Homo sapiens: one gene and its partners. The protein of the gene in region 3 interacts with the protein of the main gene of each other region in a biochemical or structural test. Each region holds a gene or a part of one and is shown on either strand. Other genes may lie near its edges.

Region 1 (3,753 bases), on a different chromosome or scaffold from region 3:
TTGTATTTTACCAGAGTAACATAGTTTTTTTTAGAGTCATTTACTTGAGTGAATACATCAAAATATTTCTCTCCAGGTTAAAAGATTTCAGGATTGGTCTGTGTAGGAGTTTACATTTATGGTCTCATCCCTAGTACACTGTGAATTCTTGAAAGCAGACATTTTTCCCCCCCTCTCTGAATCCTCAGCATTCAGCACAATGCCTGGCCCTGACATATTGTGGACTTAATAAATATCTGCTGAATGAATCATGAAAGTCAGGAATAGGATGATTATGAATCTTATCTGTTTTTTATCATTTTAATCTCATTAAAATATGAACAATTTAAAAAGACCTCAGTGCCTCAGTAAAAACACAGGCAGTTTCTTCAGTTCCTTTACACTGGCCTTCCTGCTTTAAGACCTCACACGAATCTCATGGTGTTCAAAACAAAAAAACCCTTGTGGTTAAACTCAAACGTGGGTCAGAACATGATAGGCTAGAACTAGGCCAAATGTTTAAAGAAGCAAATTTAGGATAATAAAGGAAGTACTATGTAAGCAAAGTAAGGGTTGGTACAAGATAAAAAACAAACTAGCTTCCTAACTGGTCTAGGTGAACTCTTTAGTGAGTTACTTAAAGATGCTAATATGCTTTTGAATATTTGACTGTTTAGAGGATGGATAGGTAGGAATTATGGCTCTTCTGTTGTACAAATTCTTTGCCAGTGCTGTCAGAGACAGCATTTAGTGGATCATAAGCCTGACCTAGAGTGATACTTTTTTCTCCACTGCAATAGAGTAGGTATAAATGATAGTAAATCTAAATATGAAGTTTTCAAAATGATAAAATTATGGAGGTTATTTTTGTTTTATAGAAATGTGTTATATAAAATAGCCACAATATAATGTGTTGTATACAATGTGTATTAAACAATGTGTTGTATGAAAATAGCTACCTCGACTTCCTTTAAATAACAGGTACCCATGATGCACTGAAAAATATTTAAAAAATCAACTATATAAGTATTTTATTATAGAAAATGAGGCCTTTGTGTGGGAGATCATGTTTAGTGAATGTGCAGCCATTTTTAACCTCAAAGATTATGTAGTATTCTATAGTATAGTACATAGATTTTATAGTATTTCTACTATATCAATATTATATAGGTTTCTTATTTTATCTATAGGGAAAATGCTCTATTAAAGTATAATCATTGATTTTGAAAAAAAATGTTTTATTGTTTCTTTTCCTTTTCCTGTTTTATTTTTACCACCTTTCAGGTTTTTTTCTTTCCCCTAAGTGAAGATCTGAGGAGAGGACAGGTATTGTTACATGTCAACTGTCAAGTAACTGTGACCCATTACTGAACACTTCATTGTTTTCAGTGATTATGATAGAGGATGTCAGTTTTGTAAAATCTAGAAAACTTTGCTTTATTTTGGCAGCTTGATCCTGTAGTAATGGGGTAGATTCAAAATGTGAAACTTGCTGGATGCATTTAAATTTTATTAATAAAACTTTTATCTAATTGCAGGAGCAAATATAGGCAGACTTTGTCTTCTCTTTAGTATACATTTCTGGAAACCACAATAAGTATATCTTATTTTTAATAAGACAGGTGGCATAATTGGACTGTGTACTCCTGACCAAGGACTTGACATTTGCTAAATTATAGAATGACCAAAAATACAGATCACTTATCTAGAAGTCTGAGTTGCAGAACAATTGTCCTAAAGTTTTTAAAAATTTTTATTACTAAGAAATTCATACCATTGTGATAATTAACAAGATTTGCTCTACAGTTCAATGCTCAGGGACATGTGATCTGCCAGGCTGTGAATGATGGGTAAGGTCACACTTGCCTGGTTGACCCAGTGCAGAATGGGTGCTTTAGACCCAACGGTTCAGATTATAATGAATGACACACTGACATGGTGGTGGTCTCACTGGTAATGCCTGCGTGTGATAGTGCTCAGTTGTTTATGTGCTTTGGTGGATAACACATTTTAAAGCATTGAAATGCAGCTGTGCAAGTACATATATTATACATCCCGTTCCCCAATTCACATAAATAGAAAAAAACAAGTATCTAAATTGTAATACCTAGCATTCAATGTCTTCCTTCCACCCCACTCCCATCAGTGTGTTCTTTTGGAATTAATACAGTGACCTGTATCATTAACCTGGAGATATCAGATCTCAGATATTCTAGTTTATCAGTTAAACACCAAAAAGCATTAAAACAAAGAAAAACTACCCTATTTAATCGTTCAGTAAAAACTACCATATTTAATCATTAAGTTTTGTCATGATTTAGCAAAACAAACGCAAATGTGTGTGTGTCTGTGTGTGTATGTGTTTTATAAAACAGGTTCAGGATAAAATGTATCCATATAGCACATTATGATTATTTTAATACATTTGGCCTATTTATTTTTTGACAGTTTATCAAGTTGTACAATTTAAAAGCCAATATTTATTAATCCCTAATGTACAGAAACATAGGAGGAAGTTGTCTCTTTGGTTAAACAAACTGTTGAAAGATAAACTTTGGCACACCAAAATGTTTACTTTTCAATTGATAAATAATATTTGTACATTTTTATGGGGTCATGTGATATTTTGTTCCATGCATAGAATGTGTAATGATCACATCAGGGTATTTGGGATATCCATTAATCATTTCTGTGTGTTGGGAACATTTCAAATCCTCTCTTTTAACTATTCTGAAATATATAAAACATTGTTATTAACTATAGTCACCCTACTCTACTCTGCTATCCATTGTTAGAACTTATTCCTTCTATCCAATTGTATGTACTGTGCCCATTAACCAACCTTTCTTCACCCCCACCCCCTCTGTAACCCCCACACTCGTCCTATCCTCTAGTAACTCTCATTCTGAGTAGAAACTCCCTACCTATGAGTCCCACGTGTGAGTAAGAACATGCAGTATTTGTCTTTTTGTCATGTGACCTATTTTAAGCAAATACATTAGTTACTAGTAATTAAGTAATTTGGTTTTTGCTCATTCTTAAAACTTAGAAGGGACTTTGTGGGGTTATTTGGATTAATAGCAAAGTGTTAAAGAACATAAGCTCTGGAGCCATAAAGACCTGTGTTTGAGTCCTGGCTCTGCCACTTAATAACTTTGTAACCCTATGCAAGTTATATTTAATATCTCTATACTTCAACATCCTAATTTGTAAAATAGGGATGAAAATAATGTCTACCTCATAGAGTTTTGGTGAGAATTAAATGAAATGATAATATATGTAAAGTACTTGGTTCAGTACATGGTTTAAGTTTTTAATAAACAATAGTTACAATGAATCATCCCTCTTAAAGAACTGTCTCAGTTCTTTGTTTTTCCTCTGGGGTAATTTTTTAGAATCCAGCAAAGCAATTAAAAGTGATTTATTTGATTGATCAGTTTAAATAGTCATGGTAATATCTGAACGTAATTGAAAGGGCAAGGGGAACAGAAATCTCTTTAATCTTACCCTTTTTGCATTGATCCCTTCCTCAGTATTGTCTTTAAAGGGAAAAAACAACATTGTGAAGAATATATGTGGAAGAAGGAAGAAAGGAAAGTTTGTTCACATTTTTAACATTGCTCAAATTGGAAGATGTCTCACAGTCCATGGGATGTCATAGTTTAATTAGCAGCATGTTTTTCCTTAACAATATATAAAATAATAGTGTATCTTACACTTGATTGTATCTTTTAATCAATGAAATATAGTGTATTCTGTATGTCTACCTCTTGA
Region 2 (3,753 bases), on a different chromosome or scaffold from region 3:
TGGATTTTGTCTCTGCCACCATCAGGGAGCTGGGAATTCGAGAACTGCTGCCACAGTGAGTGGCTCTAGGACCACATTATCTTTGGTATAATCTGGGCCAGGTAAATGGATGCCCTACTCTTTGCCTCTCAGCCCCCGTGAAGCTAAGAACCAGGTGCTGGGATCTCAGCTACAGCTGCTGCAGAACCATCAGATGCCTCTACAGCTGTGCTCATTGATGGAGATCGTGGAAGCACAGCCTCCATGTGGTATCTCTTCTGCCTCTGAGATTTCAAAGTATTGCAGCTGCTTGGAAGAAGATAGGTCCCATGTGGAGCCTGAGCTAAAGAGTAGTATGGGAAATGCAGTGAACTTTCATGGGGAAGGGGTTGGAATAGAGGTGAGTGAGCCAGTCTGTGCTATATCAGCCACAGACATGACTTGAAGCCATTTTATTTGTCAGCAGCTGTGTAGTTTGCATTGTAATGAAGAAAGCAAACTTTATCACTTCAAATACAAGTAGATTATCTTTTCTTTGACCTCTTTTAGTACTGTCTCTTTAAAGGGCTGTTGTTCCCTGTGATTTGATCATACAAATTTGCAGTAAAGTGAATTCAAACTAAATCACCCTACTACAACCACTAGACTATGCTACGTACATACTGGTGTATCTACAAGGCAGCTACATTGTAGATGTCCAAAAATGTTCTTTCTTTTCTAATACCTCTCAGTTTCCTATAAAATGTTACTTGGTATTTGTAATTTATAACTTCTTTTAAACTCTTTGGATTTATCATTCAATTTAAATTGGTGCCATCTTTATTAGAAACTCTTGTTGTTTTCTTGCTTATTGTCTGTCTCTTGCACTAGCATGTTAAGTTCCACGAGGGCAGAGTATCTGCCCCATACTAGATGCTCCATAAATATTAATTCTATAAATACCTTGGCATGTAAAAACACCTAATTTTTTCAGGCTGGGCAACATAGTGAGACTGTCTCTTTTTCGAAAAACAAGCCTAACTTTTCATTTGTGTTATTAGTCATGTTTTTTTTTTTTTTTAAAAAAAGATAACATAATAGTGGTCATGTAACATAACCCAAGACTCTTCTGGTATCTTTTTTTTTTTTTAAGCTAATTGGAGAACATAGACAATGAAAAAGAAAAAAAAAATGCATGGGTGATATTTATAACTTAGGTGAAGATCAGCAAGTGAGTATTTGAGGAACTACCTCCAATAATTTATCTCAAACAGGGGTAAAAAATTACTTGAGATATAACTATTTTAGTACTTTTAAAGTATTATAACGGTTTTAGTTTTTTAGGTACTACCTCCTTAAATCAGCTAACCAGAACACTTAATTTCTTTATATATTTTAAAATTTATTTTTATGGCAGACTGAATAAGGTCTTTCAAGGCATACCTTTGATCAACACATTTTTATCTTTAGTTATTATTAAATCTTGTGTCTGCAAGATTTAATAGTAACTAAAGAAATGCCAATTTAACCAGCAAAGATTTTTTTTAAAGGTTAAAGAATGGTAATAACCAATGATGGTTAGGGTATAAGAACCCTTACTGATGTGTTAATTGGTAAAACTTTTGTAGAAAGCAGTTTGAAAAATGTTTAATGTTAACATTTGAAAAATGTTAACTTAGAAAGCATATTCTAAGATTTCTTAATAGGTGACATTGTCAGGTACTATGTGAAGTACACATTTATACCCTTAAGTTAGCAATTTCACTTCTAGCTGTTTATTAAAGGGATTTTGGACAGGTACAGAAATATGTGTATTACAGATTGTTTATCAAATGAAAAATTGGCAACATATCCAGCAATAGGGAAGATTAGGTAAATATAAACTATCCATATACTATAATACTTTGGTATTGATTTGTTGAATTTGTTATGAAGTGGGCAAATAACAATAGTGTAGAATGATTCCATTTCATACTGTCTAATGCATATGGAAGTAAACATAATTCTTAAATAACTTTGAACAACAAAGGAATGATTTTTTTTTTCCTTCTGCCTTATTTATTTTCCTAAAATAACTGGGGTAAACAGTTTTGACCTTGGGTCAGGGACCCTTAAGGTCAAAACTATTTGTGATAATAAAATGTTATTTTTGCACCAATGGCACAAAGTAAATAGTGGATAATACTGTTGTCACCTTGGCAGGAATCAAGATAGTGCCACCAGGGTAGCAGCAGTCATTGCATTATTCACAGCAGTAACATGCAAATGTATTTAAAAATGTTTGTGATGGAGCCAGGCATGGTGGCTACTCGGGATGTTGAGGTGGGAGCATTGCTCGAGCCCAGGAGTTCAAGTTCATCCTAAACGACATAGCAAGACCCTGTGCCTGAAAAATGTCAGTGTTGGAGTATACATGTATTAGATGTCTACCATTGAGTTCATCTCTTTAACATTCTGTGATGAAATAGGAAATACATAGAAAGCATTTCTCATACTGAAGTACTGTGGTTTGTCTCAAGGGAAAAAAAAGCCCTTGTATGATTGAATTTTGAGATGAACTTTTCCCCACTTTTAGAAAGAGTGACTCATTGACTGTGTGCCTGTCAAGATTCCCTCTGGTTTTCTGGCTAGAAAGCTCACCCATTTCCAGTTTCTAAGAGTCAGTTCAGTGGCAGAGCCACCAGGGACAAGTAAGACTCTTGGGGGTGCTTTGACCCTGCCTACCTGGGAGCACACTTTTCCCTTCCCTGATGACCTGGGATGGTGGCCAGGCCGTGCCCTTGCTGTCGCTGGGCAGTGTCCTTTTGGAAAGGGAGCTGCCCCAGGGTTTAGTGCAGCTGCCAACCCTGTTAGGCCCGGCCTCTCGAGGCCTCTTCCGACTTCAAGGGTCACACACCCCCAAAGATCCTCTCACCCATGGTAGTTGCTGTGCATGGTTCTGTCTGTCCGTGCACCTATGCACACACACCACCCCACCACCCTACTCTGAAATTGGCGAGTGAGTTGAGAGCCAGCTCTGTGGGGTCATCCCGCAGCCATGGTTGTGCCTGTCCTTCATGGTGGTCTTTCAGGTTATCTTGGCAACATGTACATTGCTTTTCTTTTTTTTTCTTATTGTACAGTCAGTACTATAAAATTTCTCTTTGAGTTTTATACCTTTGTAGCATTTTAGATGACATTGTGTTTGTACTTTGTTGTGTAGAGTGGAAGAATTGTGTTGAATAAACCCAAGATTGGAATGCAAAAAAAAAAAAGAGTGACTCATTGACAAACTGGTTATTTGGGTCTAGCTACTGGCAGGAATTCTCTCAAATGAACCAAAGAAAACAACTGACTATATTTTTTGTCAGTGATAAAATTCAGGGTTTCAAATAAAAATTAGATTGAGAAACTTGTAATACCACTGTGAGCGCAATAGCTTTTTTTCATAATGTTATGTAATGAATTTGATATATAAGTTTCAACACTTACATCTATATAACTTAGTAAACCACTATTTCCAAAGGGCCATTGCATGATGCCATATAACATGCATGGGTACAAATTCATTTGCGTTGAAGACATTCTAATGGATTTAAAGTCACAGCACAAAATGTTCACGTTCATGGTTATGGCTTCAGTTGCACATCGCACCTTATCTTTAAGCATCACACAGTAAAGTGTTAGAGTAGGTTTCGGCAGAGACAAAAACTTACAGAGATAGTCATAATAATGTCATATGTATGGGAAGGCAGCTACCAAGTGCCTTCAATAGTGGCAGAGGTAAAAGAGGATATTTTATGTGGGCTTTGATGG
Region 3 (3,753 bases):
CAGGTCAAAACCCCCATGCTGATGAGTAGTGGAATCTACTGCCAAATAGTTTTTCATTTGAGTTCTGGCTGCTCCATTTGTTTGTGTTGGCAACTTAAAAAAAACTAGGCCAAATAAAACATCTGTGGACCATCAGTTGTCACCTCTGGCCTAGCGCATCTTCGGTTCTTATGGGAGAAAGTTCTTTATGAGGTAAGTCCAAAAGCATAGAGTTCGCTTGCTTAAGACCTTGCAGTATCCCTCAATCTTTGGATAATGATCGAACTTCATGACGGGCTGCTCTTCTTTTTTTCTGCCTCTTTTCCCTGATCTTTACGTCCATTTTTCGTATCTCCATCCCTGCCACTTTAAAGGTCTTGGTGGGCTGCCACACTCTAGCAAGTCAGCATGCCTTGAAATATGCTGACCCCCCCTGCCGATGGCTTCCCCTTTCTTTACTAGGCCAATTGGGTACTTTCTCTCCCCACTAAATTACTAGACCCAGTGCTTGGGATACAAACCTGGATTCTCTCTACCCCAGGGACTTCACGGTGCCTGCCACAGGGCAGGTGCTCAGTACATGCTTGTGCCACAAACTTGGGTACTCTCTGATGTTGAATTTTTTTAAGGTAATCCATGCAGATAGGAAAGTGAAAAAAAATTACACACGAGAAAAGGGAAATTTTACCCTCAATCTTCCCACTTTTCCCCAGAGGCAACCGCTGGTACCACTTCCTTGTGTATTCTTCCTGAGATATATATGGAATGTATAAGGATATATATTCAATCAATGCTATGGAGAAAAAAAAACAGCCCTCTGGGGGTCCGCGAGTGCTGGAGACGGTCGCGCACGGCTCTCAGGAGCTGCAATCTGAGAGCTGCCCTACTCTGGGCCCAGAAACGACCCTCGTGCACCTGCAGTCCTCCAGGGAAATCTGAAGAAAGTTCCACAGCTTGGATCCCCAGCACTTTGGGAGGCCGAGGCGGGAGGATCGCTTGAGCCCAGGAGTCGGAGACCATGCTGTGCAACATAGTGAAACCCCCTCTCTACAAAAAATACAAAAGTTAGCTGGGCAAAATGGTGCCCTGTGGTCCCAGCTACTCGGGAGGCCGGAGTGGGAGGTTCGCTGGAGCCGAAGGGGTCGAGGCTGCAATGAGCCGTGATCGCACCACTGCACTCCAGCCTGGACGACACAACGAGACCCTGTCTCAAATAAAAGGAAGGAAGGAAGGAAGTTACACAGAAAGGCCGCGTCGGCTCTCCTTCCCACGCCCTCCTGCAGCGCCTGCGCACCAGGGCCCGCTTCACGCAGGCCTGCGAAGCTGGAGCCCCTGGATAGCCTTTCTTGCCGACAGAGGCGGGAGAAATTTGCTACTTCCTGTATACCTTATCCTTCTCCCTTCCCAGTCTAAGATACGAACTATAAATGTTCGAACCCAATTCACCCCGGAGGGGAGGGGCCAGATACCAGTGGCCTGAAGGCGCCCAGGTATCCAGAAGAATTGTGGGTGGGGACCCGCGGTCCCGTGACGTGCGTCCGCCAATCAGCGCGCAGACCGCACTTTGCGGCTCGGCTTCAAACTACCGTGAGGCCGGAGCGCCACTGGGACCCCGCCCCCTTCGCCTGGGTCTGGGGCCCCGCGAGACGGCGGAAAGGGGTGGGGGCGCCCGGGGGGGGGGGGGGGGCCCCCGGAAGGGGGCGGGGTCCGGGATCAATTAAGGGCCCGCCTCACCTATTCCGGGCGCGGGCTGAGTCCCGTAGCCAATGGGCGGGGGTGGGGGGCGGCCCGGCCGGCGGGGAGGGGGAGCCCGCGGCCGGGGACGCGGGGGGAGGAGGAGGCGGGCTCCCAATCCGGTTCCATCCGGTTCTCCCACCGCCCCCGCTGTGGGTCTCAGCAGCTCGGGCGGCGGGAGGAGTGGCAGCGGCAAGGCAGCCCAGTTTCGCGAAGGCTGTCGGCGCGCCGCGGCCCGCAGGCACCCGGCACGCGCCTTCCCCGCAGGCACCCGGCACGCGCCTTCCCCGCCGCCACGATGCCCAAGAGGAAGGTGAGCGGCGGCCGCGGCCCGCACACGCCCCCTGGAGCCGCCGCCGGCGCCCCGCCGGGCCCCGCGAGGCCCAGGCCCCGTTGCACCCACGGTGGCGACGGGCCCGGGAGGCGCTTGGAGACCGGCGGGCGGGCAGGCGAGCGCTCGGCGGCCGCGGGGGCGGGCGTTCTGGAACGTTTGGCGGCCGGGGGAGCTGAGGGGGCTATTCGAACGGGGCGGCGGGAAGCCGTGACGTCACGCGGCCGGGCATTGTTCTCGGGGCCGGGCGGGCCCGCGAGTCCTGGGACTGCGGCCCGCCTCTATTCGTGCGTCTCCGTCTCCGCAGGTCAGCTCCGCCGAAGGCGCCGCCAAGGAAGAGGTGAGTGCGGGCCTTCTGCGGGGGGTGGTGGGTTTCCCGTGAGCCGCTGGCCTGCCTTCTCTTCTCGCTGACTCTCCTTTTTCTTTCTCCAAGCCCAAGAGGAGATCGGCGCGGTTGTCAGCTGTAAGTAAAGCGAGCCCCGTAACCGTTCGTTTTCCGCGGGTCGTCCCGGGTGAGGACGCTCAGTGCTGCTTTTGCCTTTCAGAAACCTCCTGCAAAAGTGGAAGCGAAGCCGAAAAAGGCAGCAGCGAAGGTAAGCCTCGAAACGCGCATTGGGATGCAGCGGGGCCTTAGGCTACACTGCTTCTTAATGCGGGGCTTCCATTTTGATTAGCTATTGGAGCTTTATTTATACTTTAATAATTACGGTAAATAATTTTTCTAGTGGTCGAGGCAAAAATGTAATGGATATATTCATCCTGGTTTATAGAACTATATCACACTAATGCTGCTGCAGATGTTAGGAGACTTAGGACGACAAAAAATATTAAATATTAAGTCTACAAAGGAAATTTATTCTTTGCGTTGCGTACATTGTGGCTGGTGCTTGGCTTTTAATTCGTGCTTGTACTTCCTTTTTTGACAATAAAAGAGTCAAGATAGCACCGAGGCCAGGAGAAAGGGAACGTGTAAGTTTTTATATATACAGTTTCCAAGCCAACTTCGGGAAGCCTTAACCTTTTTACGGGGTGGGGGTGGGGAGGTAAAAAGTTGTGATCTCTGAGAAAATAACCGCCACTACTCTGGAAGTGTTCATCAGCAGTTATACAAAACCGTGATTTTGGCTGCTCCCTAACAAATTCGTGATTGCATGATTCGAATTGCAGGTCTGTAGAATGAAGTTGGCTTTGGGTGTACGTGTGTTTGATAACTTGCAGGGTGGAAAAGCAGAACATGTGTAAAACAAGTATAAGCTTTGTGTTTGGATATAGCATTGAAACCTGTAAAGCTCTACATGTTCTTCGCGGGGTGATTAATTTTTATCCAAAACTTAGGTGAGAGTTTGCTATTTGAAGTCTCAAAAAAAATTTTTGTTAATGCCTTCACCTCTTTCCTAAAAGTGTAGGTAGAAGTTTAGCACTGCAGTCATCAGAAGAGGCAAGATTAATTTCCTTGACATTGAGGAGTTGTTGGATAATTACTAAATTTGTCCTTGTTAAATAAAGGTATAAAACAAAGATGTTTTTTCTTTTTTAATTTAAATTTTTTACAGAGCTGAGTGTAAAAATGTTAACTATGTTTTCTTTAACAGAAAGTTCTGTTTTTGTGATCCTTTTAAAAATAAAGCTTCACGGAAGGTATGAGAATAGTATTTTTCAACTTTAAATTTCTCATTACCAGAAGACCATGTGGTAATTCTCTGTATACA

The links.
Region 1: of the proteins of HMGN1 (region 3) and RPS6KA3, one has a biochemical effect on the other in vitro, tested with the Homo sapiens proteins (one study listed by BioGRID).
Region 2: the proteins of HMGN1 (region 3) and HPF1 form a complex in vitro, tested with the Homo sapiens proteins (one study listed by BioGRID).

The regions. Positions count from the first base shown.
Region 1 is NC_000023.11:20,260,244-20,263,996, reverse strand, and holds part of RPS6KA3 (ribosomal protein S6 kinase alpha-3), read left to right. Parts: intron 1-3,753. UniProt on the Homo sapiens protein: Serine/threonine-protein kinase that acts downstream of ERK (MAPK1/ERK2 and MAPK3/ERK1) signaling and mediates mitogenic and stress-induced activation of the transcription factors CREB1, ETV1/ER81 and NR4A1/NUR77, regulates translation through RPS6 and EIF4B phosphorylation, and mediates cellular proliferation, survival, and differentiation by modulating mTOR signaling and repressing pro-apoptotic function of BAD and DAPK1.
Region 2 is NC_000004.12:169,744,279-169,748,031, reverse strand, and holds part of HPF1 (histone PARylation factor 1), read left to right. Parts: intron 1-3,753. UniProt on the Homo sapiens protein: Cofactor for serine ADP-ribosylation that confers serine specificity on PARP1 and PARP2 and plays a key role in DNA damage response.
Region 3 is NC_000021.9:39,347,176-39,350,928, reverse strand, and holds the start of HMGN1 (non-histone chromosomal protein HMG-14), read left to right. Parts: upstream 1-1,840; 5' UTR 1,841-2,011; coding exon 2,012-2,026; intron 2,027-2,323; exon of another isoform or gene 2,324-2,351; coding exon 2,352-2,384; intron 2,385-2,475; exon of another isoform or gene 2,476-2,477; coding exon 2,478-2,507; intron 2,508-2,589; coding exon 2,590-2,637; intron 2,638-2,986; exon of another isoform or gene 2,987-3,550; intron 3,551-3,636; exon of another isoform or gene 3,637-3,753. UniProt on the Homo sapiens protein: Binds to the inner side of the nucleosomal DNA thus altering the interaction between the DNA and the histone octamer. May be involved in the process which maintains transcribable genes in a unique chromatin conformation.